Homo sapiens: one gene and its partners. The protein of the gene in region 1 interacts with the protein of each later gene in a pairwise test. Each region holds a gene or a part of one and is shown on either strand. Other genes may lie near its edges. The genes, in order: CLEC7A, TMPRSS4, TMPRSS2 and SAR1A.

Region 1 (3,959 bases):
CTGGAATCCCAGTTACATTCATTACAGACCCATTGACACCATCCTATATGTTTCTTTTGCTTTTTCCTGTGTTTTCATTCTTTTTTAGCTTTTTGCTCCAATCTATGTAATAACCTTTCACATATCTTCCGGTCATCTATTTTTTCTCATCTGTGGCTAATCTACCATTAAAAGCCTCTATTAAGTCTTTTATTTTGTTTGGTGACATTTTCAGTTTTATAATTTTAGTTTAGTTCTTTCTCAAATCTATTATTTCAACACGTATACTTCTACTTTTTCTTCCAACATTCTTAGTATTGTCTTCTAACTTTCAGAATACACTAACCATAGTTGTTTTAGCTTGTGTCTGATAATTCCAATTTTCTATATGTATCTGTTTCTGTTTGTTTTTTTTTTTACTATTTTTCTTTTGTGTTGATTAGTTTTCTCTTATGTCAGATTGCTTTTTATAGTGTTGTTAACATTTTATCTTAAAATCTTTGTAGAATTAATTTGAAGTGTTTTTTCATTTGCCTCTGTTCTCACCACCAGGTCTGTTCACCCAATAGTGTGAACAGTACAAACTGCTGAGCATAATCACTTAACTGTTTTACTTCTACTAGGCTAAGTACAGTGAATTTATTATCAGCCAAATGTATTTTCTACTTTCTTATAGTACTTGTTTGTCTTGAGTTTTCTCTTGCTATTTTAAATGTATGACTAGAGGACTCTTTCTATAATCACAAGTGGGCCCAAGTTAACATTTTGATATGTTACTACTTTTTTGTTTTCCGGGTGGCATTTATTTAATCTAGCTGTGTCTATGCCCCCAAAACACTTATAGGTCAAGGAAAATTTTTAAGGAATAATGCTGGTCAGAGTTCTCCCTGAGGTCTGAATCTAAGTAGTTAATCTTAGCCTTAGTCATCGCTAAAGCAAAGTTTTCTCAATCTTCCAACCTCAGGGTCAAGAGGGAGAGATACATAACCAGGACAAAGAGTGCCAAGTCATAGCTTTTGCACTGACGGTCAGTGATGCTCTTTGAGCTTGACTCATTAACACTGCTACTTAAGGAGATTGAAGACCAAACTGAACAGGACCATGCCTGCATTTAGCAGTGTTGATTTCCATAACTGTCAAGCATTGTATTGTAATATAATTCTGCTTCCAGGATACATTAAAATATACAGAGTTGTTTGCCCTGCCTTTAAATGGCCTGGGCATCTCTGATTCTCTTTTTAGTTCTAGATCTGTTTTAGCATTAATGCTTCTGCTTGGTCTACTCATTAAGTATATCCAGTAATAATTTAATTAAACTGTTACTTGATTTGATAAAGAAACATTTAAGTAATAGGCTGAAAGATATATAAAGAACTTTTTATAGAATATTAAATGATTTTTCTTCTTTGTCAGGAACTTTTTTTTTAGTTTATGCAGCTAGTAGCAGTTCTTGAAAAAAAATTAAGTCGTTTTTCTGCCTTAATAATGGAGACTATTCATTTAACCACTTGAGATTCACAACAATTTAGATTTAAGCCTCCTTTTCCAATAATAGAAACACTTCAGAACTCTTTTCACCAATATCCTTACTAATTTATTTGTGCGCCATGTAGACAGTATTCCTTAACATTTGTTCTAATTACCTCACTGTATTCTATTTTAACAGATTTCAGATCAGAACCACAGCTACCCAAGAAAACCCATCTCCAAATTGTGTATGGATTCACGTGTCAGTCATTTATGACCAACTGTGTAGTGTGCCCTCATATAGTATTTGTGAGAAGAAGTTTTCAATGTAAGAGGAAGGGTGGAGAAGGAGAGAGAAATATGTGAGGTAGTAAGGAGGACAGAAAACAGAACAGAAAAGAGTAACAGCTGAGGTCAAGATAAATGCAGAAAATGTTTAGAGAGCTTGGCCAACTGTAATCTTAACCAAGAAATTGAAGGGAGAGGCTGTGATTTCTGTATTTGTCGACCTACAGGTAGGCTAGTATTATTTTTCTAGTTAGTAGATCCCTAGACATGGAATCAGGGCAGCCAAGCTTGAGTTTTTATTTTTTATTTATTTATTTTTTTGAGATAGGGTCTCACTTTGTTACCCAGGCTGGAGTGCAGTGGCACAATCTCGACTCACTGCAGCTATCTCTCGCCTCAGCCCCTCAAGTAGCTGGGACTACAGGTGCATGCCACCATGCCAGGCTAATTTTTGGTGTTTTTTGTAGAGACTGGGTTTTGCCATGTTGACCAAGCTGGTCTCTAACTCCTGGGCTTAAGTGATCTGCCCGCCTTGGCCTCCCAAAGTGCTGGGATTACAGATGTGAGCCACCACACCTGGCCCCAAGCTTGAATTTTCATTCTGCCATTGACTTGGCATTTACCTTGGGTAAGCCATAAGCGAATCTTAATTTCTGGCTCTATCAGAGTTGTTTCATGCTCAACAATGCCATTGAAGTGCACGGTGTGTTGCCACGATTTGACCCTCAACTTCTAGCAGTATATCAGTTATGAACTGAGGGTGAAATATATTTCTGAATAGCTAAATGAAGAAATGGGAAAAAATCTTCACCACAGTCAGAGCAATTTTATTATTTTCATCAGTATGATCATAATTATGATTATCATCTTAGTAAAAAGCAGGAACTCCTACTTTTTCTTTATCAATTAAATAGCTCAGAGAGTACATCTGCCATATCTCTAATAGAATCTTTTTTTTTTTTTTTTTTTTTGAGACAGAGTTTCGCTCTTGTTGCCCAGGCTGGAGTGCAACGGCACGATCTCGGCTCACCGCAACCTCCGCCCCCTGGGTTCAAGCAATTCTCCTGCCTCAGCCTCCCAAGTAGCTGGGATTACAGTCAGGCACCACCACACCCGGCTAATTTTGTATTTTTTTAGTAGAGACAGGGTTTCTCCATGTCGGTCAGGGTAGTCCCGAACTCCTGACCTCAAGTGATCTGCCTGCCTCGGCCTCCCAAGTGCTGGGATTACAGGCGTGAGCCACTGCACCCAGCCTAGAATCTTGTATAATATGTAATTGTAGGGAAACTGCTCTCATAGGAAAGTTTTCTGCTTTTTAAATACAAAAATACATAAAAATACATAAAATCTGATGATGAATATAAAAAAGTAACCAACCTCATTGGAACAAGTATTAACATTTTGGAATATGTTTTATTAGTTTTGTGATGTACTGTTTTACAATTTTTACCATTTTTTTCAGTAATTACTGTAAAATGGTATTATTGGAATGAAACTATATTTCCTCATGTGCTGATTTGTCTTATTTTTTTCATACTTTCCCACTGGTGCTATTTTTATTTCCAATGGATATTTCTGTATTACTAGGGAGGCATTTACAGTCCTCTAATGTTGATTAATATGTGAAAAGAAATTGTACCAATTTTACTAAATTATGCAGTTTAAAATGGATGATTTTATGTTATGTGGATTTCATTTCAATAAAAAAAAACTCTTATCAAAAAACCCATGGCCTCTAAATTATGTGCCTGTGTGTCACAATCACTATTACAATTTGCCCTCTCCCCAAAAATGATGATGAATTTGGTATGGGTGGAGTGGATATTTATAGTAGATATTTTGATATTAAAGCATTAATTCGCGATCTTAAAAATTTTAAAAACCTAAGAGAAGATAAAGATCTTTGTGAGGTTTACTATTGTTGTTTAATATGCAAATTTGTTTTCATTACTTAAAAACATGTAGAAAGGGAAGAGATAGATAGGTGCAGCAAACCACCATGGCACATATATACCTATGTAACAAATCTGCACGTTCTGCACGTGTATCCCAGAACTTAAAGTACAATTAAAAATACATACATAAATAAATAAATGATGTAATGTATAATAAACATAAAAAAAGAAAGGGAAGAGATAGATCAGGCTGAGAACATGAGGAGTATGGTTAACTGTTTTAAGTAGTTAAAGCATAGGATGGAGTTTGGAAGAGATATCTAGTATTTT
Region 2 (6,864 bases), on another chromosome or scaffold:
GAGCCACTGCGCCCAGCCAGGATTATCTCTTAATCTTCATAACAACCCTATGAGGTCAGAAGTATTGTTATCCCCACTTTACAGATGAAGAAGATGGCGTGCAAGAGGATTAAATAAGATGCCCATGGTTACGCAAATCATTAGTGGCTGAGATTAGGAGGCAGGACCCCAGGCCACTAGAGCTCAAGCTCTTGACCAGGGAGGATTCAGGTTTTGAGAGGCCTGAAGCTTATGCATTTTGAGGGGCTTGGTTTTTTTCAAAAAGCAACAGACTCTTTAATGTGGTTTAAAATACATCCAGATCAAGTCCCCGGCTGTTGTGAATGCCGAAAAGAGACAAAAAAGCTGCCGGTGCAGCTTCAAACAAGTCTGAGCGTCAGGCTGGCCCATAAGGAAAGCAGTTGCAGGGACAGGAGGCAGCCCCCTCCTCCAGGAAGGGCAACAGGAGCAGCCGGGTGCCTGCCTGTCCCTGGGGTGACCGCCTCTGTGCTGTGCAAGGCGGGAGGGCTGTGGCAATAGGCCTTGGACCTCCCCCATGGACACCAGCGAGTTCCCCTGGCCTCTGGGTCAGCCCTCAGCAGCGCCGCCATGATGGGGTGGAGGAGGGTTAAATAACCATCTTTACAGAAATAATATTCTCCTGCAGAACGTGTCTGAGCTCAGACCATTGTCCAGAAACCTCATAGAAAACAAACAACAAAGTTTTTTAAAGTGCTGCTGACACCTCTCAGAATCTGGTGTGCATAGAGCTCTCAGCTGGACGAGACCTGTTGGTCCTTAAACTGAGGTCACCTGTATGGGACCAGCCTGGGTGAGGAAGGCTCTGGCCTTCACTCACAGGGATAGGCCACTTCTTGAGGGGCTTTCTTGAAGAAAAAGCACGTCAAAGAAATATTCAGCAAAATTTACAAAAACGTATGATTGTGTGAACATATTGCCGGGCCCTTTCCCAGGGCCCTGGAAGGAACCGTGCAAGTGAGGGGCTCTGAAGCTTCAGCTTCAGGAGTTTCATGATAACTCTGCCTCGGATCTTGACACACATGCTGGAAACAGATAAGGAAAGGGAAGAAGGAAGAGAAAAAAATGTCAAAAATAAAGAGGAAGAGATAAAAGAGAAGTAATGGGAGGGAAAGAAGAGAGGAAAAACAGGAGGAGGATCTAAAGAGATGGATGGGCAAGAGAAAGAAGCAGGCAGGACAGGGCTGAGGGAGAGCTGAGGCTTCCTCCGGGAGAATGGGGGTTCTGGGCCGGGTGCGGTGGCTCACACTTGTAGTCCCAGCACTTTGGGAAACCAGAGCGAGTGGATCGCTTGAGCTCAGGGGTTTGAGACCAGCCTTGTCAACATGGTGAAACCCTGTATCTACAAAAAATACAAAAATAAGCCAGGCATAGTGGCTCACACCTGTAATCCCAGCTACTTGGGGGACTGAGGCGGGGGAATCCCTTGAGCTCAGGAGGTGGAGGTTACAGTGAGCTGAGGCTGCACCACTGCACTCCAGCCTGGGCAACAGAGGGGGACCCTGTCTCAGAAAAAAAAAAAAAAAAAGAATGTGGGTTCTGGTCCAGCTGGTTTTCCCTGGCACCTGGGAGAGGTGGGCCTCTGTTGTCTCCAGGCCACTGTGCCTCCCTCTGTAAACCTTCACCCCCACCTGCAGGCATCACAGCCACCCTGCCCAGTCCTGCTTATGTGCCTTCTTCCCGGACCTCTCCACAAACTCCCAGACCCAAATGGGAGCAGAAGCCAGGAGGGCTGAGTCATCATCCCTCCAACCAGCCATGCCCAGCAGCCTTCATGCCCAGACAGCTGCCTCTTTCCTGGTTCATCACCTGAGCACCAGGTAAAGCAATGCAAACCTGTGGGCCAGATGTTTAGCCTGGCACATAGAGGAACCAAGACAACTGAAAACGTGGCTCCCAGTGGCCCACTGGCTTCTCACTGCCCTGCTGCTGGGGAGGTGCCTGCCTGGACCATCACGGCCCTGACCCTGAGGTCACCTGAGATCACAGGCTCTTGCCTCTGCCCAAGACTTCCAACTCTCAAGGCCACCAGCCATCAGTAAGGAAGGGCTGGGGCTGTGCTGGCTCCAGAGCCCTGCAGGCCAGCTTCAGATCTCTGCTGCTCAGAGACAAGTCCAAGGCCACACTGCATTCATCAGCTGAGATTTGGCCAATAATCCATTACACAGATCCGGTATTCCTCCTGCTCAGACATCACTGGGGTCCTCCATGGGCCATATTATCCCAAACCATGAACCTGGGGCTTTCAAACACTTGTGTTCCATTCAGCCTGTTCACAAGCCTGGCAGTGTGAACCAGTAAGAGAACCAGGTTCCAGCCCCAACTCTGCCCGAAACTACTTCATGTCCATAGGCTATAGTTTCCTCAGCTGACAAATGGGAACAAAATATTGGGGTTGTTGTTGGAGAATTAAAGGGCTGATACACAGAAGCACGTTATCAACAGAAGGACAAATACACACGTCTAACCCAGGCTGGTCTCCTGGGAGGGTCAGGTCTGAGAAATGGAAGGAGATCTGGATTCATATGGAACCAGACACTAATTCATTATGTGACTTTGGGTCATTGACTTTGCCTCTCTGGAATTTAGTTTTGTCGCCCACAGAATGGGGGAACAATGTGGACAATTATCCAAGTCTCTCCCAGCAAAATATCTGTGGCTGTAAGGTTTCACCTTGCACATCCCCTGGCCAGGGGGCAGCTCCAGCTATCAGGATGTGGCAGAACGTGAATCAGAAATGATCCTGTGGGGCTGGGTGCGGTGGCTCACGCCATAATCACAGCACTTTGGGAGGCTGAGGCAGGTGGATCAGTTGAAGCCAGGTGTTTGAGACCAGCCTGGCCAACATGGCAAAACCCCATCTCTACTAAAAATACAAATTAGCCAGGCATGGTGGCGCACAACACCTGTAATCCCAGCAGCTACTTGGGAGGCTGAGGCAGGAGAATCACTTGAACCTGGGAGGTGGAGGTTGCAGTGAGCCAAGATCGCGCCACTGCACTCCAGCCTGGGCAACAGAGACTCTGTCTCAAAATAAAATAAAATACAAAAACACAAAACTTAGCTGGGTGTGGTGGCAGGTGGCTGTAGTCCCAGCTACTCGAGAGGCTGGAGCACGAGAATTGCTTGAACCTAGGAGGCGGAGGTTGCAGTGAGCTGAGATTGCGCCCCTGCACTCCAGCCTGGGGGACAGAGAGAGACCCTGTCTTAAAAAAAGAAAAGAAAAAAAGAAAGAAAGAAAGAAGGAAATGACTCCGTGGACGAGGAGACGTGGGCTCTAGCCAGAGCACCAATAGTGATTTTCAGAATATTGAACGGCTGCTGAGGCAGGGGCAGGAAGCACTAGTACATTGGCTCTGTGCAGGACAGCTTCACTTCTGGGATCCAGGGAAAGGGGGTACATCTTACCTCCCTAAGAGAAGAAACTCCCTCCTTCTCTGTGGACTTTCCAATCCTATTGCTCCACACCTGGCAATGATCTCTTTGTACTGAGCTGCAAACCCTGTCGCCCAACCCCCAGACCACTCCAACTTCCCACAACCCCAAACCAAAGCACCCACACAGTGAGAAGTCATGCACCTAGAAGGTAGGGGGAGGGGGGGCGGAAACTTCTGGCATCACCCTCAGCCAACACCCAGTTGGGTGGAAGTCATTCAGGCGGGAAGGCTTTTGTTACGCCTTAGGTGTGTCACCTGTTCTGAGGCCGAAGGTCCCATGAATGACTTCAGGTGTTGTTCCAGCCCCTAAGATAGGTGTCAGGTTACAAGACACATAATCATTCCAGTTTGGCAACTTCACTTGTAGGGCTGTTTTAATCAAGCTGCCCAAAGTCCCCCAATCACTCCTGGAATACACAGAGAGAGGCAGCAGCTTGCTCAGCGGACAAGGATGCTGGGCGTGAGGGACCAAGGCCTGCCCTGCACTCGGGCCTCCTCCAGCCAGTGCTGACCAGGGACTTCTGACCTGCTGGCCAGCCAGGACCTGTGTGGGGAGGCCCTCCTGCTGCCTTGGGGTGACAATCTCAGCTCCAGGCTACAGGGAGACCGGGAGGATCACAGAGCCAGCATGGTGAGTGTGGGGCCCTCTGCTCCCAAGACACAGGAAGGGTGGGTCTCCCCATGTAAGGCCCTTCAAGCAGCCTGAGCATCCATCAGCTGAGAATTCTGTGACACCTTCTAGGTTAAAAAAAGAGGCCACACCCAAATCCCCTCACACCCCAGCCCGGTACACGTCTCATACCCACCTGCCTTCCTCTCTTCCTCCATTGCCATGGTCCTTGGACCAGCTCACCTAAGAAGCTGAGCACAGAGCCAGGGCTGTCCTTCCCGACTATTCTTTCCTGAATCCTGCATGTTCTTTTGCCCAATGTCTCCAGGTCTGTTGGTTAGAGGTTGGCACTATTTTTCCAAGGCAGGGGGCTGTTCTGATGCCACGGTTGCCCTCTGCCACTCCCTGGGGAAACTGATTCCTTTTCTTTTTAAAGAAAAGTGTAGACTGGGTGCAGTGGCTCACGCCTGTAGTCCCAGCACTTTGCGAGGCTGAGGCAGACAGATCTCTCGAGGTCAGGAGTTTGAGACCAGCCTGGCCAGTATGGTGAAACCCCATCCGTACTAAAAATACAAAAAATTAGCCAGGCGTGGTGGCAGGTGCCTGTAATCCCAGCTACTTGGGAGGCTGAGGCAGGAGAATCGCTTGAACTTGGGAGGCGGAGGTTGTGGTGAGCCAAGATTGTGCCATTGCACTCCAACCTGGGCAACAAGAGTGAAACTCCGTCTCAAAAAAAAAAAAAAAAAAAAAAAAAAAAAAAGAAAGAAGGAAAAGAAAACAGTGCAGAGATGCCTCCAAACAATCTAGGGTGTTTGTGGTCATCTTTTACTTGGTCTCTTTTCATGCCCTCACCCTCTCTCCTCCTCCTCTGAATACCTGGAGCGTCTTCGCTGTCTTGGGGCAAAGAGAATCAACCCTATCTTTCAAGGAGGACAGCTGAGGGCCAGGGAGGGGAAGAGATAATAACTGGGTCTGAGGAGGAACCCAGGGGTCTTCCTTCTCCAGTCCTTGGCCAAGAGGCAGCAATTGCCCAGCCACCAAAGTGAAAGGGAAGGGAAGAGAGGAAAGGAGAAGCCACTGTCCAAGGGGGAAGGGTGTGACCTGCAGGGGCCCCTCGAGTGATTGTCTCCTATTCCCAACCTGAGCACTTCCCACGACACTCTTCTGAAAATTCTGGCAAGAACAATTCTTAGTGCGGTTGTAGCTGATGATCAGAAAGGGGAAGGGGCTTCCCTTTGAGCCAGGATCAAAGCACAAGCTTCCTGCTTTCCCATCCAAGGAGGCGCCCCAAAGTTTGGCCTGTGTGCAGAGACGCTGTATCCCCTGGGGCTCCCAGGAGAGGAGAGCAGCTGTGGAGTCTACCTAGCTGTGAGCTGCTTCTGGGTGGCAGGCACTGAGGAGACCTGGGGTGTCTCTTGGGGGAGCAACAGAGAAGGGAATCATTTCTAGGGCAGGTCACTAACTGCAGAATCAGAAGGCTGAGGCCAGCTCCCTGATTAGCTGTGCTGTCTTGAGGCATTCATCTTCCCGAGACTCACCTTCTCCCCTGCCCACGGAAACGATATGACCCACAACAGCCCCACGCACATGCACCGGGTTCGCAGAGATTACACAGCTAATACATGTGAGTAGGTTCTGGAAACCATGAAGCCCCGCACAGATGTAAGGACTTAGGACTAAAGAGGAGTCTGTGCTAGGAAATGACAGCTGGGTAGTACACCCAACACAGACCCTTTGCCACCAGGGAAGGAGCTGGGCATTGCTGGAGGAGCGGGGGAGGGCAGGTGGGAACACTGGTGGAGGGGTCAGGTCAGGCCTGGGGCCCCAAAGGCAAGGCAGCAGCATGGCCAATCTCCACGGTGTGGTCAAGGAAGTTTCTAGCCCCGGAGCTAGCCATTATACTGCCTGTGCTGAATAACCCTGTCATTAAGCCTGTGCTTAATAACCCTTGACAGCCATAGCTCCCAGCCCTGAGGGGAGGATGGGATCTCCACACCCAGGCTCAGCCCTCCCTTCCCTTCCCTTCCATTCCCTACCTCCTTCCATCCCCACAGGCCCCTTTCTGTGACAGTCAGGGTCCTTTGAGCTGCTGCGTCTTAATGACAGCTCTCCCAAGAACCCATTAAGCTGGGTATTCCTAGGGAGAGCTGGAGCAGGGACTCAGGCCCAGGCAGAGGTCAGAGCCCAAGCCCTGTCCCCGAAGGAAATGTGTCCCATGCTAACTACTCCATAGCTGAGGCCTGGAGGGAAGTCAGGGACCCTGGGACTGGTTATCCTGGCCTTGACTCATTACTGTTCCGGAGACCTAAACGCACCCTGAGCCACCAGACGTGGGTGTTAACACCTGAGGTCAACCCCCTGACGCTTCCGGCTGCTCTGGAGGAAGCTGGTCCTCCCTCCCACCTCCTGTTTTCCGTGCCAGCCTGGTACAGAGTCAAGGGGCTTGGCTGGGCTTGGCTGGGCTCAGAAACGTGGCAGTCAGGAGCCAGCCTGCGGGCAGCGGGGTGCTGGGAGCACTGCAGGGTCCACCCTGACTGGGGCACAGAATCCAGAAGCCCACTCGGCCCTGGCAGTGCCATCCTAGGCTCTGAGGTGGTAAACTGAGCTGGGCAGTGGGAAGGTCCTAAAGGGCAAGACAGGCAAGGAGGGGCTGCTTGCTTTGCCTGCTCTCCTGGATCCTTTGCCACCTGGGTGACAGGGCCTGGTGTCACTGTAACCACTCCCCCCCCACCAAAAGAAGCTCCAGCCAGACACCATTTAATCAGCCCCTTTCATTGGCCAGCCTCTAAATGGGGCTGG
Region 3 (7,036 bases), on another chromosome or scaffold:
TCAGATCTAAGCCTTGGACATTGAGGTAGAAAGGAAAGGTGAATGGTCAATGGAGTGCTTGTTCAGTTTTGGTTGCTGAAGACTTGGAAAGTGGCCTTGCTAGTGGGGAGAGTGAGGGCAGGGAGAGCTCCCTGTGGGGAACCAGAGAGCCCAGGAGCATTGAAGGCCCAGGTGCATTTCTGCTCTCTGGTCCCTCCTGCTCTGCACTCCCTGAGTGTCCCTCATCCCACAGTCACCAGGCCTTTGCTACTCTTCCCCGCCCCTCCTTACTTTCCAGGACACCTGCCAGGGGATCCTCCAATATGGGATGCACTGCGTGGCCTCAGGATTGGGGTGCAGGAGCATTATGTACCTGAGAGCTGAGGCCTGTATGGAGTCAGCCTTTGTGGGGCCCCTCCTGGCCCTAAGGGTGATTTGGGAAGCCCTGACTTGCAAGCACCAGGGGTATGGGCCTGGGTGTGAAGAAGGGGGCTTATGATGTCCCCATGGCCATTGACCACCTTGGCCCCACCGAGCCTGTGGACACCCAAGGAGGAGCAAAAGGGGGATCTGTGACAGGGTAGCAGCTTGGTTGAGCACACAGGCAGCTCTTCAGCATGACCTAGAACAGAGGCTGGGCTCCAGGAGGAGGCAGAGCCTGATCTGGGACTTGGTTATTCCTGGTTGCTGAGCAATGGTCAGGAGAGAGGAACTGAATGAGTGGAAATGCGCTGGTTGGGAGTCGAGGCTGGTTTTCTGGCAGGGGTGTGGGTGGTTACTTTTGTTGTAAACAGAGTGAAGTTTGAGAGGGCAGGAAACTCGAAGACAGGCTTTTCATCCTCCTGGAGGTGAGTCTGGGAGAGGGAGGTGAGGGCTCTGACATCTATGTGTGGATGGCGCTGAGCCATTGGGCATCCATGGCAGGAGGGCAGGAGGAGTTTAGGGCACAGAGTTGTGGTAAGAAAGCAGGAAGTGTTTGAAGGGCACCTTGGCTTGTGGTTGTGGCAGCAGAAGTCTGGAAGTTCACTCAAGGGCAGACTAGGTGGAAAAATCGGGGCTGTCAAGTGGGACTCAGAATGAGAGGTTGTGACAATTGGATTTGTTAGAAAAATATTTTCAAGCGAGGTCTGACTTGGCAGATGGAACTAAGCTGAGGCTTTTTATTATTGCTTGTTTGTACGAGGTGCACAATGCAGTGTCAAATTCCCTTTAAGGCCATTGCTTTCCAAGGGGCTGTCCTGGCGGGGCACTCAGCCTGACCCCACTGCAGTATAGCCCAGGGGTCATGGGAGACCATGCTTTCTAGGGACGATGGGCTTGGAGTTCTTTGTGCAAGATACTGATAACAGAGAATTTGCTGACATTTTCAAGTTCACTGGTGATGATGCATTTATAAGGAGTTGGGAGTAATATGAAAGATCACTATGTCTGGTCTTGATGCTCAAGCCTAATTCTGTTCTGGAATATGTTGGAGAAATGATCCTCCAGTCTTGAAACATACATTTTTAGGTTTGAGGAATTCGGTACATTCTAAGGTAGCTCCAGGCCATATGTGAACTTTCTAATTGTTGGAACCTTGATTTCCCCAGATAGAATCCAAGCCTGCTCTTCTGGAAATTCTGATCATGATTCTGGTATTGTCCTTTGGATGTATGCAGAATAAACTGAATTCCTTTTCCACATAGCCGGCTCTTACGTGTTGGAAGATAAACCTTATCTGCCATCATTATGTTATTATTGAGTGCTCACCATGGGTTGGGCACTGAGCTACGGCCTTGCTTTCTCACTTAATCCCTGCAACAACCCTATTTCTGTATCATCCCCATTTTACAGATTGACTTGGACAAGTTCTTTAAGCCTCAGCCAGTGGCTTGTGTGTGGTGTTGAAGTCTCCGCCTGGAGTGACCTGAGGGCCTCTGCCGCCTGCCTGCCTGTCATGCCAGGTTGCACTCAGCTTGAGGCACCTGGACTCCTGGGAGGTCACCCACTGTCCTGACTTGGGCTGCTGGTGTTGTCTGGGTGTGGGCATCTTATCGCCCTCTGCTAAATTTCATCTTACTCATTTGGCCTTTGGAACTCAAAAAATATATATTTTTTCCTGCAAATTGCATTGTATTTCAAATTTACATTTCCGATCGTCTGTTGTTGGTATATAAAAACACATAGATTTTTATATTGATCTTGTATCCCTCAACTTTGCCAAACATGCTTATTAATTTTTCCCCAATAGTTTTTGGGGTACAGGTGGTAAGAACTCCATAAAAACATTTAAATACTGTCTTTGTAAGCTACAAAGTGAGATTTAAAAAACAAACAGAAAGAGAGAGAACCAGACCTGATATCTGCCCTAAAAAGTTTGTAATCTCTTTGGGACAATGAGTCATTCACAGGAAAAGAAACTTGGATGATGCAGGCAATACCTCTCCTAAGGTGATCTTTCTGTTTCTCGCTCAACCTTTCTCTCTCAGTAGAACTCTTGTGCCAATCATTGTGTATGCAATTTACCTGATTATACATAAACAAGTTTCTGCTGAACAGCCACTGAAATCCACTGTTGGCTAACTCATTTAGTCATGCATTCTATCCTTAGGAGGATAGAACATCTCGTTGTATAATGTGATATTAGTGCGGTTATTTTGGCATAAAGGGCTCTTTTTGATGATTTGGTCATTGGCTGGGATGTGTCCGTGGATGGTGGTGGTGGTGCTGTCTGGATTTTGAAGAAGGGGCACTGAGTCTGAGGCTGTCTGTTCCCTCTCACACCTCCAGCAACTCGAACCGTACCAGTCACAGGTGGGGGCTTCGAGAAGGAGAAGGTGTGTGCACAATGGTGCACGGTGAGGTCAGTGGAGACTTCATTGCAGAGAATACCCCTGGATCTTGGGTGGGAGTCAGTGTCTACAAGCCTAACTTCATTCGCGTTGGCTTGGTTGTTTGGAAAGTAAGTCTCCAGTAAACGTGTCCTGAGATCTCCAGAGGAGAGAAACTAGGAGAAAAGATTCTTGTTTTGGCAGTAACTTCATCATGTCATGGGATGCGGATACGATGCCACAGCATCGTCCTGCTGCATGGTGGCCAGGCAGGTGACTCATGGGCTGACTCAGCTCTCAGTCCAGGATGGACCAAAACAGTGCGAGGACAGCTGTGTGCCATTGTGAGATTCAAGTGGGTGACACTGTCTGTATTGAAGGAAGAGCTCCCTGCCAGCCAGGAATGGAGCCTGAGTGCCACCCACTGTTGCTCTTTCACACTTAAAGGAAAATTTCCCCAAGTGCTCATGGTGGCTGGCTTTCCAGAATTGAGAGCCATCATCCCGGTCCTTTAAATGACAGGAGCAAGCATTCGCTAAACAGCATTGTCTCTCGCCATCTACTTTACGTCTTGCTCCTTTCAGAAATGAGTTAATGCGATGTACAAGCTTGTGTGAATGAGGAAATGCCTGTTTTGAAGATGAACAGGACTGAATGTGATTTCCTGGTCTTTTCGGGACAGCAGTGCTTCCCCTTGCAGATCTAATGTCAGAGCGGGACATTCCCCCCCTTGTTTTATTTTCAATTGGAGAATGTTGTTGTTGTTTCTTTTTTTTTTTTTTTTTTTTTTTTTTTTGAGACAGAGTCTCTCTCTGTCACCCAGGCTGGAGTGCAGTGGCCTAATCTTGGCTGACTGCAACCTCTGCCTCCCAGGTTCAAGTGATTCTCCTGCCTCAGCCTCCCAAGTAGCTGGGATTACAGGCACCCACCATCATACCCAGCTAATTTTTGTATTTTTAGTAGAGATGGGGTTTCACTATGTTGGCCAGGCTGGTCTTGAACTCCTGACCTCAGGTGATCTGCCCGCCTTGGCCTCCCAAAGTGCTGGAATTATAGGCAGGAGCCGCCGTGCCCGGCCCAGCTGGAGAATGTTACTGGCAGCATCACTCTGGTCTTCCATTCCAAAGTCCATGGTAACTGACTTGGGCACACGGAATATTTTTGTTTATCATGTTCTGATTGCTGGAAGAGATAGGATTATCCTGTGACTGCCTCTGGGTCCCATGGCTTTTATTTGACAATTAATGGTGGTGGCTCCCGGTGTTCCTTCCTTCCCTGGCTTCCTTGTTAGGGATCGTGAATGAATAGCAAGTGTGGGTTTTGAGTATTGATTCTTCACTCCTTTCAGAGGGCTTCTGAGCTGGGAGAGCTGCCAATGGGATCGAATTTTCACTTCCTGAAACTTCAACCAAACCTGTAACTGGGGAGATAGGACAGCCGAGAAACCAGAGGCATGAGGATGTGTTTGGTTAGGCAGGACTCTTTGAAAGCAATCTTAGGATGGTACTGAGTTCTGTCCTGCTTATGAGACAAGAATGCGGGATTTATTGTGTTGTCAAGCCTGAGGATCCTCTCTCTTCACAAAGCAGACATAGGCAAGGTCTGTTAAGATGTGGCTAAAAGGCTTAAACGTTTTTGATACATTTTAAATGGTGATCCTTCCCACCTGTACATTAGTCACTTTCCTTTCCTTATACCCAGGAAGGTGTGAACTTTAGTTTTAATCCTAGAAAAAGTCCCAAAGCTACAACATGACCTGGTTCTTGTATTTTTATCTGTAATTGAAGAGTAAATAAATGATTGGTGCATGTTTGTTGTAACCTGTTGGGTGAGGTTTCTCGAGACTAAAAAGCCATATACTCATTTTCATTCATGGCAGGCTGTTGGGGTTTTATAGTTTAATGATTCAGCAACCAGTTCTGCTTAGGACACAGGAAAGCGATGGTGTACTGAAGCCGGCCCCACTCTACTTGGCTCCGTGGTGGGCTTCATGTTGGTAGCCTGGGAATACTTACCGAAGGCAAACCTGCGAATCAAGACAGCCCTCTTTTCCTTCAGCAGGTTGTTAAATGTTTATCAGCTTTATAATTCCTCTTATTTAATGGAAAGTTATATAGCACTCATTTTATGCTAAGCATGAAGCACTTCATTAGTATTAACTCATGGAATGCCCTGGAGGTAGGTGTTACTATTATCTGCATTTGCAGATGGGGAAACTGAGGCACAGAACCTTCAATAGCTTCCTCCAGGTCATGGAGAGTGAGTGGCTGAGCCTGAGTTTGGATCTAGAGTCTAGTCTCAGAGGTCAGGGGCTGAACCGCTGCCCAGTGCTGCCTGCTGCTGTTTGAGCACCTGCTTTGTGCCAGCAACTGGGAAATATTCTTCTGTGGCCATGTCACAGACAGTGGACACTGGTCTGGCCAGGTCCGAAGCCCAGAGCCTCCTCCAGGTTCTTGTTCCCTCATTGGGAACATGGTCTTGTGGACGGATAATCTTGAACCCCGTTTCTTAAAATATTCTTTGGTCATTTAAAGCCAAGCGGGAAGGGGTGGAAAAAAGCCCTTTATTTGCTCAGGAAGGTGCATGTTAAAGAAAAAAAAATCGTCCAATGAGACTTGTTAAAATGGTGAAGCGAACTTTATTCAGGACCACGGAGGCAGGTACAGGGACCACAGCCAGCAGATTTTGCAGTGGGAAGAAGAGACTGGGATCCGCTTGAGTACAGTATGGGCAAGTGGGAGTTAATTTATAACCAAGGATCAGGGTGGGGTTGGTGGGTGGAAAAATCACAAAGAGAAAACATCAAGGGTAAGGGGGATTCTGGCTAAACCAACCAAACAGGATTCTTGCTGAAGACAGGCTGGGTGATCAGACATCACCTGTGGCACGGTGGAGGCTGAGGAACCCGATCAGATATCCAGAGTGATCAGATACCGAGGGTGGGAGGTTCTGGCTAAACTGACTGAGCAAGGTTTTTTGCTAAAACTGGATTTTACAAGGAAATGCACAGATGGCCTAGAAGGTTCAGGAGCTTGATATAAGTTTGATCAAGCGAAGAATCTTTGTCCATGGAGAGTGATGTCAGAATGCGGCTTTACTATACAGCATTTCGTGTTGACGGCATCTCTAGCTATTATTGTTAACTGTTCACAAAGGACAACAAGCAAAATGGCCCACAGCTTTCTTTTCATTACTGCTAATCTTAGCAGTGGTCAAAATGGTTGGCTCTGAATTTCTTTCTTTTTTGGGTTTGGGGTAGTAAATGGAGTGACTGTGGACATGTTTTATGGATTATTTTAAGCGTATGTATCTATTAAAAATTGAGAGGGCCCACATGGCCTGCTTTAAAAAGTCAACTGTGAGCTGTATTTGGTGCTGAGCCCTGAACCACCCGCTGGGCAGTGGGTGGCTACTGGCAGTGCCTGTGGACGTTCTCGGGGAAAGACGGTCTGATTGCACCTGCTCTTCCTCAGTTCCTAGTACTGTGAGGCACTCTTTCCCCACTCTCCCACAACCCTCAGCTTAACACAACTGTGGTGATTGCTTTGTCCGTTTTCCCATGAGGACCCTGAGATTTCAACAAGGTTCAGTAACTCACACATCGACACTTCCAGGGAGCTGTGTTGCCAGGAACTGGCCCAGGTCTTTCCCTCCTGGGCCCATCTTGTCCTTAATCTCTGCTGACATTGATGGGTTTAGTTACCTTGTCGTGTTTCTTCAGTGTTTTATGCCATACAGTCTCCCTTGAGTAGATGTTCTGTATAGGGGATATCACAGCTTCCTGGTGAGAACTGGGTTAAGTCCAGCAGGATGCCTGGGCTTAGTGGCACTGGAGTTGTGGGTGGCCTTGAGCCCCAGGCAGTCCCCTGAGAGCCCTTCCCGATGGATGTTTGAGTCACTGAGTGTGTTCCTTCTTCTTTCTGGTCAGGCTGTCCTGGCCGCTGCACTTACAATTGCACCCCATCCTCCTACCCACTCTGATCCCAGAGGAGAGTGCTTCTGCTGTAACCTCTAAGGCACAAGTGGGTCCCAAAGTCCTTAAATATGGAGGGATGTGGGGAAGCAGTGGTGAAGATGCAGGCCAAAGGTCAGCAGGCAACACTGGTCTTTGTTGTAGGTAACCTTCATCTAGAGATTCTTCTAGTTCTTTCCAGATTTATCTTCTAAAAACTAACTGGTATGGAAATATTACAGTCCTGTAATTCTTTCTTCTAGGTCATATTGAACATTCCAGATACCTATCATTA
Region 4 (7,036 bases), on another chromosome or scaffold:
TCTCCTGCCTCAGCCTTCTGCATAGCTGGGATTACAAGCAAGCGCTGCCGCGCCCAGCTGTTCATTTTATTCTTCATCTGGCATTCTTTGAATGTAAGGGGATTTTTTTGTGGGTAATGCTTTTACTGGTTACTGTTCATGAAAATTTTGAATGCAGTTGGTCATATCTAGTATAAAGCCCTGTGTTCAGATGCTCCTGCTGATGGAGAGGAGTAAAAGTGTGGACCTTCCATTTTTCTGCACCGCATCTGAGATACTAAAGCAAAAATTCAGCATGGCCAGACAATGCTGAGAAACCTTAAGACCCACCAGTGTGTCTAGATCCTACCCTCTTAATTTCATTCAGAGGTCATTTTGCTTATTACCAATATATGTAAACCTTTTAGTAGCTTTTGATAGCTATGAGAAACAATAGAAAAAGTAGTGTTAATATCAGTACCAGTTAAGTTATTTACTGGCTTGGGAACTTACTGCTATATCCTGAAAAGTATTCTTTTTTTGCTTTTTTGTTTCTTGAGACAGGGTCTTGCTCTGCCACCCAGGCTGGGGTGCAGTGACACAATCATAGCTCACGGCAGCCTCAAATTCCTGGGCTCAAGCAATCCTCTTGCCTCAGCCTCCCAAGTAGCTGGAACTACAAGCACGTGCCACCATGCCTGACTAATTTTAATTTTTTTTTTTTTTTTTTGTAGAGATGCAGGTCTCTCTATGTTACCCAGGCTGGTCTTGAACTCCTGAGGTCAGGGAGGAATCCCCCACCTCAGCCTTGCAAAATGCTGGGATTACAGGTGTGAGCCACGGGGGCCCGGCCTGAATAAGTATTCTTATTTTAAGAAAATCTATTTGTAAAATGAGTTTGGGTGTGATTATTCATGTATGAAAAGATTCTCTTCTTATCCCTTAATGGTTCTCTAAAATAGTGATGTCATTTCTTTTTATAAATTGAGACCCGTGTCTGCAAAAATGATTAAATATTGAGATAACATTGGTAAATGGAGCAGGGCAAGTGGTGCTGGCCAGTAGAATTTTGGGTGACTTTTGTTTTTTAGAGTTGTTTACAGGATAGATTAATATGTTTTTCATTCAAATCAATGTGCTTTTCATTCTTATTTTCTATTTAGTGCATCTAAGTGGCATTCTGATTCACATTATTGATAAGACTGATTTCCTAGAGTTGTTCTTCACTGGATGACAGCAGTCGTATGTCTAGGGAATGTGAATGAACCGCTGCCTGGAGGAGTAAGTCACACAGTAAAAGAAAGTGTAGGCATACCTCGGATATACTGTGAGTTTAGTTCCAGACTACTGAAATAAAACAAGTACAGTAAAGCAAGTAACACGAATATTTTGGTTTCCTAGTGCACATAAAAGTTACGTTTACACTATACTGTAGTCTGTTAAGTGTACAGTAGCATTACGTCTTAGAAAATACGTACCTTATTTAAAAAATACTTTATGGCTAAAAAATGCTAACAAGCATCGGAGCCTTCTGCGAGTCATAACCTCTTTGCTGGTTGGGGATCTTACCTCCATGTTACTCCACGTTGATAGCTGTTGACTGATCAGGTTGATGATTGCTAAAGGTTGGGATGGCTGTGGCAGTTTCTTAAAATAAGACAACAAGGAAGTTTGTTGCATCAGTTAATGCTTGTTTTCAAGAAAGATTTCTCTGTAGCATGCAATGCTGTTTGATAGCATTTTACCCAAAGCAGAATTTATTTCAAAATTGGAACCAGTCCTCTTAAACCCTGCTGCTGCTCAAGTAAGTTTATGTAAACTCAAGTAAGTTTTTGTAATTTTCTAAATTGTTGGTGTCATTTCAACAGTATTCATAGCATCTTCACCAGGACTAGATTCCATCTCAAAAAAACCACTTTTTTTGCTTATCCATAAGAAGCATCTCTTTATCCATTAGTTTGATCATGAAATTACAGCAGTTGTCACATCTTCAGGCTCTACTTCTAATTCTAGTTCTCTTGCTGTTTCTACCACATCTAAGGTTACTTCTTCCTCCAAAGTCTCGAACCCCTCAAAGTTTTCCACGAGGGTTGGAATCACTGTCTTCCTAACTCCTGTTAATATTGATATTTTGACCTCTTCCCGTGAATCATAACTGTTCTTACTGGTACCTAGAATGGTGACTCCTTTCCAGGAGGTTTTCAGTTTACTTTGCCCAGATCCAGCAGAGAAATCAGTCTATGGCATTGATGGCTTTGTGAAATATATTTCTTTTTTTTTTTTTTTTTTTTTGAGACGGAGTCTCGCTCTGTCGCCCAGGCTGGAGTGCAGTGGCGGGATCTCGGCTCACTGCAAGCTCCGCCTCCCGGGTTCACGCCATTCTCCTGCCTCAGCCTCCCAAGTAGCTGGGACCACAGGCGCCCGCCACTACGCCCGGCTAATTTTTTGTATTTTTAGTAGAGACGGGGTTTCACCGTTTTAGCCGGGATGGTCTCGATCTCCTGACCTCGTGATCCGCCCGCCTCGGCCTCCCAAAGGAAATATATTTCTTAAATGAAAGACTGGCAAATCGAAAATACTCCTTGATCCATGGGAAGCAGAATGGATGTTGTTAGTAGACATTAAAACAACATTAACTTCTTTCTGCACCTCCATCAAAGCCCATGGGTGACCAGGTGCGTTGTCAATGAGCAGTAATATCTTCAAATCTTTTTTTCTGAGCAATAGGTCTTCACAGTGGGCTTAAAATACTTAGTAAACCATGCTGTAAACAGATGTGTGGTAGGCAGAGTAGATTTAGTATAATTCTTTTTTTAATTGTAATTTTTTTAATTGGAAAACAAATACACAACTTGGAATGGATTTGAGGCAAATTGTGCCATAAGCACATTTTCTTTAAGTGGCTAAACAAAGTTTAAAAAGCAAGTAACAGTAAAAGAAAATGTTTCTGGTACAGGACCAGCAGTACAGAAAAAACAGTGTGTGAGGTACCTGGGAGTACCTGGATAATACACCCATTCTGCAGTAGTGCAACTTTTAAGTACATATTGTTGGCTGTCCGTAGTCCACACAGAGTTACAACTCCATACTTCAACACCATGCTGACAGTTCCTAAAGAAAACTACTTTAAAAAAAGGCATAACCCGGATGTTCCCTTATTTGACCAACTCCACCTAAGTTTAGATGTGCAGAAGGGCTTAGATATATCCGGAGTAAGCCACAGGCAACATGTTACTTCATCAGTTTTCTAAAATAAGGTTTCAGGGCAATGACAGTAAGGGAAGAACACATGGAGGAATGAAGTCCTGATTACCATACATGCATATTTTTTTTTGACAGTAGGGAGAAGCCTTTTACAGATAAGTTACAAACAAAAGGCAAATAAACAGTTTTGTGCAAGAAATTTAACACATTCTGTACAAGGTCTTCATTATGCTGTCATCATTTGTACAAACTCATAGTTTACTTGACCATCACCATCAGGATCTGCTTCCCTGATCATTTAATCAACTTCTTCATCTGTTAACTTCACTCCAAGGTTTGTCATCACATGGTGAAGTTCTACACCACTAATATAGCCATTGCCATCCTTATCAAACACACAGAATGTTTCTCTAATTTCTTCTTCACTGTCTGTGTCTTTCATTTTTCTTGCCATCATTGTCAGAAATTCAGGGAAGTCAATTGTGCCATTACCATCAGCATCTACTTCATTAATCATGTCCTGTAACTCTGCTTCTGTGGGATTCTGCCTGAGACCTCATTACAGTTCCTAGTTTCTTTGTTGTTATAGTTCCATCACCATCTTTGTCAAATAGTGAAAAAACTTCTTTGAATTCTACAATCTGCTCCTCAGTCAGTTGGTCAGCCATGCTGCAAGTGCTACTGGTTTCCGAGACGCAACCACACAACCACTCTGCTCGCTCACTTGCTCCACTTGGACTGATTTAGTGTCATTCTTCAGGGCCCTAGGATTTTCAAAATGGTAAATGAGTATGGGTCCTAGGATTTTCAGAATGGTAAATGAGTATGGGTCCTAGGATTTTCAGAATGGTAAATGAATATTGGCCTCAACGTAAAGTCACCTTGCATTAGCCCATAACAAGAGAGTCAGCTTGCCCCTTGAAGCTTTGAAGCCAAGCAATGACATCTCCCCTCTAGCTATGAAAGTCCTAGATGGCTTTTCAAATAGAAGGCTGTTTTGCCTACATTGAAAATGTGTTGTTTAGTGTAGCCACCCACCTTCATCAGTTATCTTGCTGCAGCTTCTACATCAGCACTTGCTTTTTTACCTCGTGTTTTTATTTTATTATTATTTTTTATCAGCAATAAGGCTGTTTCATTTTCTTGACGTTCATGGGTTTGCTGGAGTAGCACTTTTAATTTTCTTCAAGAACTTTTCCTTTGCATTTGCAATTTGGGTAACTGTTGAGTGCAAGAGGCCTAGCTTCTGGCTTATCTCAGGTTTTGATGTGTCTTCGTCACTAAGCTTAATCATTTCTAACTTTTGCTTTCAAGGGAGAGACCTGTTACTTTCACTTGGAGAATAGGGAGGCTTGGGGTGGGGGCAGGACTGTGGAGGAAGTCAAGTTTGCTGTCTTCTATGGTTGTGGTTTGTGGCACAACAAAACAATTATACTAGTAATACCAAAGATCACTGATCATAGATCATGATGACAGATATAAGAATAATGAAAAAGTTTGAAATATTGTGTGAGAATTACCAAAATGTAACATAGAGACATGAAGGGAGCACATGCTGTTAGAAGATGGTACTGATACACTTACTCAACTCAGGGCTGCTTCCAACCTTCAATTTGTAAAAAAACCAGAAAACCTCAGGATCCACAAAGTATCATCAAATGAGGTATGCCTTTATATTTTTAACTCCTAGTTCTCTGAGTATCATAGATCAAAAACTATTAGGAAACAAGTTATTTTTGCACATATAAGGATTCTAGACTCTCCTCCAGATTGCAAAATCTGTGTCAAGAAAGAATATTAGTTTCTCTTTACTTTGCTTCCTCCCCTCCCCTTCCATCCCCTCCTCCCCTTCCCCTCCTCCCCTCCCCCTCCTCCCCTGCCCCGCCTCCCCTCCCCTCTCTTTTCTTTTCTTTTCCTTTCCTTTCCTTTCCCTTTCCCTTTCCCTTTCCCTTTCCTTTTCCCTTTCCCTTTCCCTTTCCCTTCCCTTTCCTTTCTCCTGTCCTGTCCTGTCTTTTTTATCAGAGTCTCCCTCTGTTGCCCAAGTGAGTGCAGTGGCACCGTCATGCCTCACTGCAGCCTCAAACCCCTGGGTTCAAGTAATTCTTCTGTCTCACCCTCCTGAGTAGCTGGGACTCTTGGTGTGTGTCATTATGTCCAGCTATTTTTTTAGTTATTTGTAGAGATTGAGTCCAGCTTTCTTGCCCAGGCCAGTTGTGAACTCCTGGGCTCAAGTGATCCGCCTGCCTTGGCTTTCCCAAATGCTGGGATTCCAGGTGTGAGCCACCATGCCTGGCCTGCTTTCTTATTCCCGAAAACAAGAGACTATAAATGTGCATCATGGCTAGGGAACAAGAGTTAACCTCTCCACAATTGTACTGTCATTCAGAAAGCTAATGTTTGCTACTTTCATATTTTATACAGGTAGTAAGCATTAATAATGTCTTTCATCTTTGAGTGGATCTACAATGGCTTCAGCAGTGTGCTCCAGTTCCTAGGTAAAGCCATTTCCTTGAAATACAGGTTTCAAAGTTTGTGCCTTTCCCTCAGTAATTTAACTACAAATAGGCTTTGGTCTGTAGAGAGCAAATGTGTTAACAATTTTTTTCTCTTTTAGGACTGTACAAGAAATCTGGAAAACTTGTATTCTTAGGTTTGGATAATGCAGGCAAAACCACTCTTCTTCACATGCTCAAAGATGACAGATTGGGCCAACATGTTCCAACACTACATCCGAGTAGGTTTGAAAATATCAGGTGACCTTTTGATCTTTAAAGGTCAGTGTTAGGCGTGGAGGATGAATCCCTAGTTGGTGGAGTTCTTTTATTAACTGAAGTCCCAAAAGCCAACTCATACGAGAAAGTTCCCTGTAAGACACACTCAGGTTATGTACTTTCAGATCTAAACCTCTGGAACTTTGTCATTATCTGTTGTCACTGGTCCTGTAAAGGGACACCTCTCCTATACCTACTTCTAAGAAGTGGAAAATAGCTTGGAAGAAAAGAAACCTTTGGCTTTTAGAATAGTTTAAGAACATTTCACCCTTGTATTCCTTTTCTTTGTTGGGAGTGGGGCGTTGCCTGGGCTGGTCTCAAAAATCCTGGGCTCAGATTATCCTCCTGCCCTCAGCCTCCTGAGTAGCTGGAACTACAGGCGGGTACCACCACACTCAACTTCTTGTATCTTTTTCTTTACAAGATGAAAGCATTGATATTGGCTTATAGTACTAGTAGTTGGGGGTTGTTGAGTTGACAAGTTTTTTTCTTCTTTTTAAACAATTTTTCAGCATCAGAAGAGCTAACAATTGCTGGAATGACCTTTACAACTTTTGATCTTGGTGGGCACGAGCAAGGTAAGTGATGACTCAGTGGAAAGCATGTTTATTGACTTATTTTTTTTGTGCCTCCCAGCTCCTTTTAAAAGCAGTGTGTCATTTTTACCTTTTAAATTACTTACATTTTAGAATTAGGATCTTATTACTTTAGTGAAGTTGTTTTATTCATTTATTTTTTTAAGTAATTTCAAACTTGTCAAAAGTTGCATTAAATAATACACAGAAGTCCCCTTCAATATTACCCTATTGAGCTGGGATAAAGTTAGCCATAATGTATAACTATTCATGAACTTTTAAGTATTTGCCTGATATAGCCAAACTCAACTCAAATCTTGACTGAAAATTTTTACAAAGCAGGACAGCATCTTGCCATTTTAATCTTTACTACATTTTTACTTATTAATGTAATTTACCTTGTAACTGGAAAATATGTTAAAAGATATATGTATTGCTTCAACAAGAGTAATTATTTCATCATTTTAACTAGGCTTGCCCTAAGCCAGTATATTTTCTTCTATACCTTTTGCTCAAATTTGTTAGTCT

Evidence for each region.
Region 2: the proteins of CLEC7A (region 1) and TMPRSS4 interact in binary tests that used the Homo sapiens proteins (3 or more experiments, as listed by UniProt).
Region 3: the proteins of CLEC7A (region 1) and TMPRSS2 interact in binary tests that used the Homo sapiens proteins (3 or more experiments, as listed by UniProt).
Region 4: the proteins of CLEC7A (region 1) and SAR1A interact in binary tests that used the Homo sapiens proteins (3 or more experiments, as listed by UniProt).

The regions. Positions count from the first base shown.
Region 1 is NC_000012.12:10,116,277-10,120,235, reverse strand, and holds the end of CLEC7A (C-type lectin domain family 7 member A), read left to right. Parts: intron 1-1,645; coding exon 1,646-1,778; 3' UTR 1,779-3,459; downstream 3,460-3,959.
Region 2 is NC_000011.10:118,073,220-118,080,083, forward strand, and holds the start of TMPRSS4 (transmembrane protease serine 4), read left to right. Parts: upstream 1-3,858; 5' UTR 3,859-4,083; coding exon 4,084-4,086; intron 4,087-6,864. UniProt on the Homo sapiens protein: Plasma membrane-anchored serine protease that directly induces processing of pro-uPA/PLAU into the active form through proteolytic activity.
Region 3 is NC_000021.9:41,498,158-41,505,193, reverse strand, and holds part of TMPRSS2 (transmembrane protease serine 2), read left to right. Parts: intron 1-7,004; coding exon of another isoform or gene 7,005-7,036. UniProt on the Homo sapiens protein: Plasma membrane-anchored serine protease that cleaves at arginine residues. Participates in proteolytic cascades of relevance for the normal physiologic function of the prostate.
Region 4 is NC_000010.11:70,160,479-70,167,514, reverse strand, and holds part of SAR1A (small COPII coat GTPase SAR1A), read left to right. Parts: intron 1-4,755; exon of another isoform or gene 4,756-4,825; intron 4,826-5,583; 5' UTR 5,584-5,599; coding exon 5,600-5,657; intron 5,658-5,776; coding exon 5,777-5,896; intron 5,897-6,445; coding exon 6,446-6,511; intron 6,512-7,036. UniProt on the Homo sapiens protein: Small GTPase that cycles between an active GTP-bound and an inactive GDP-bound state and mainly functions in vesicle-mediated endoplasmic reticulum (ER) to Golgi transport.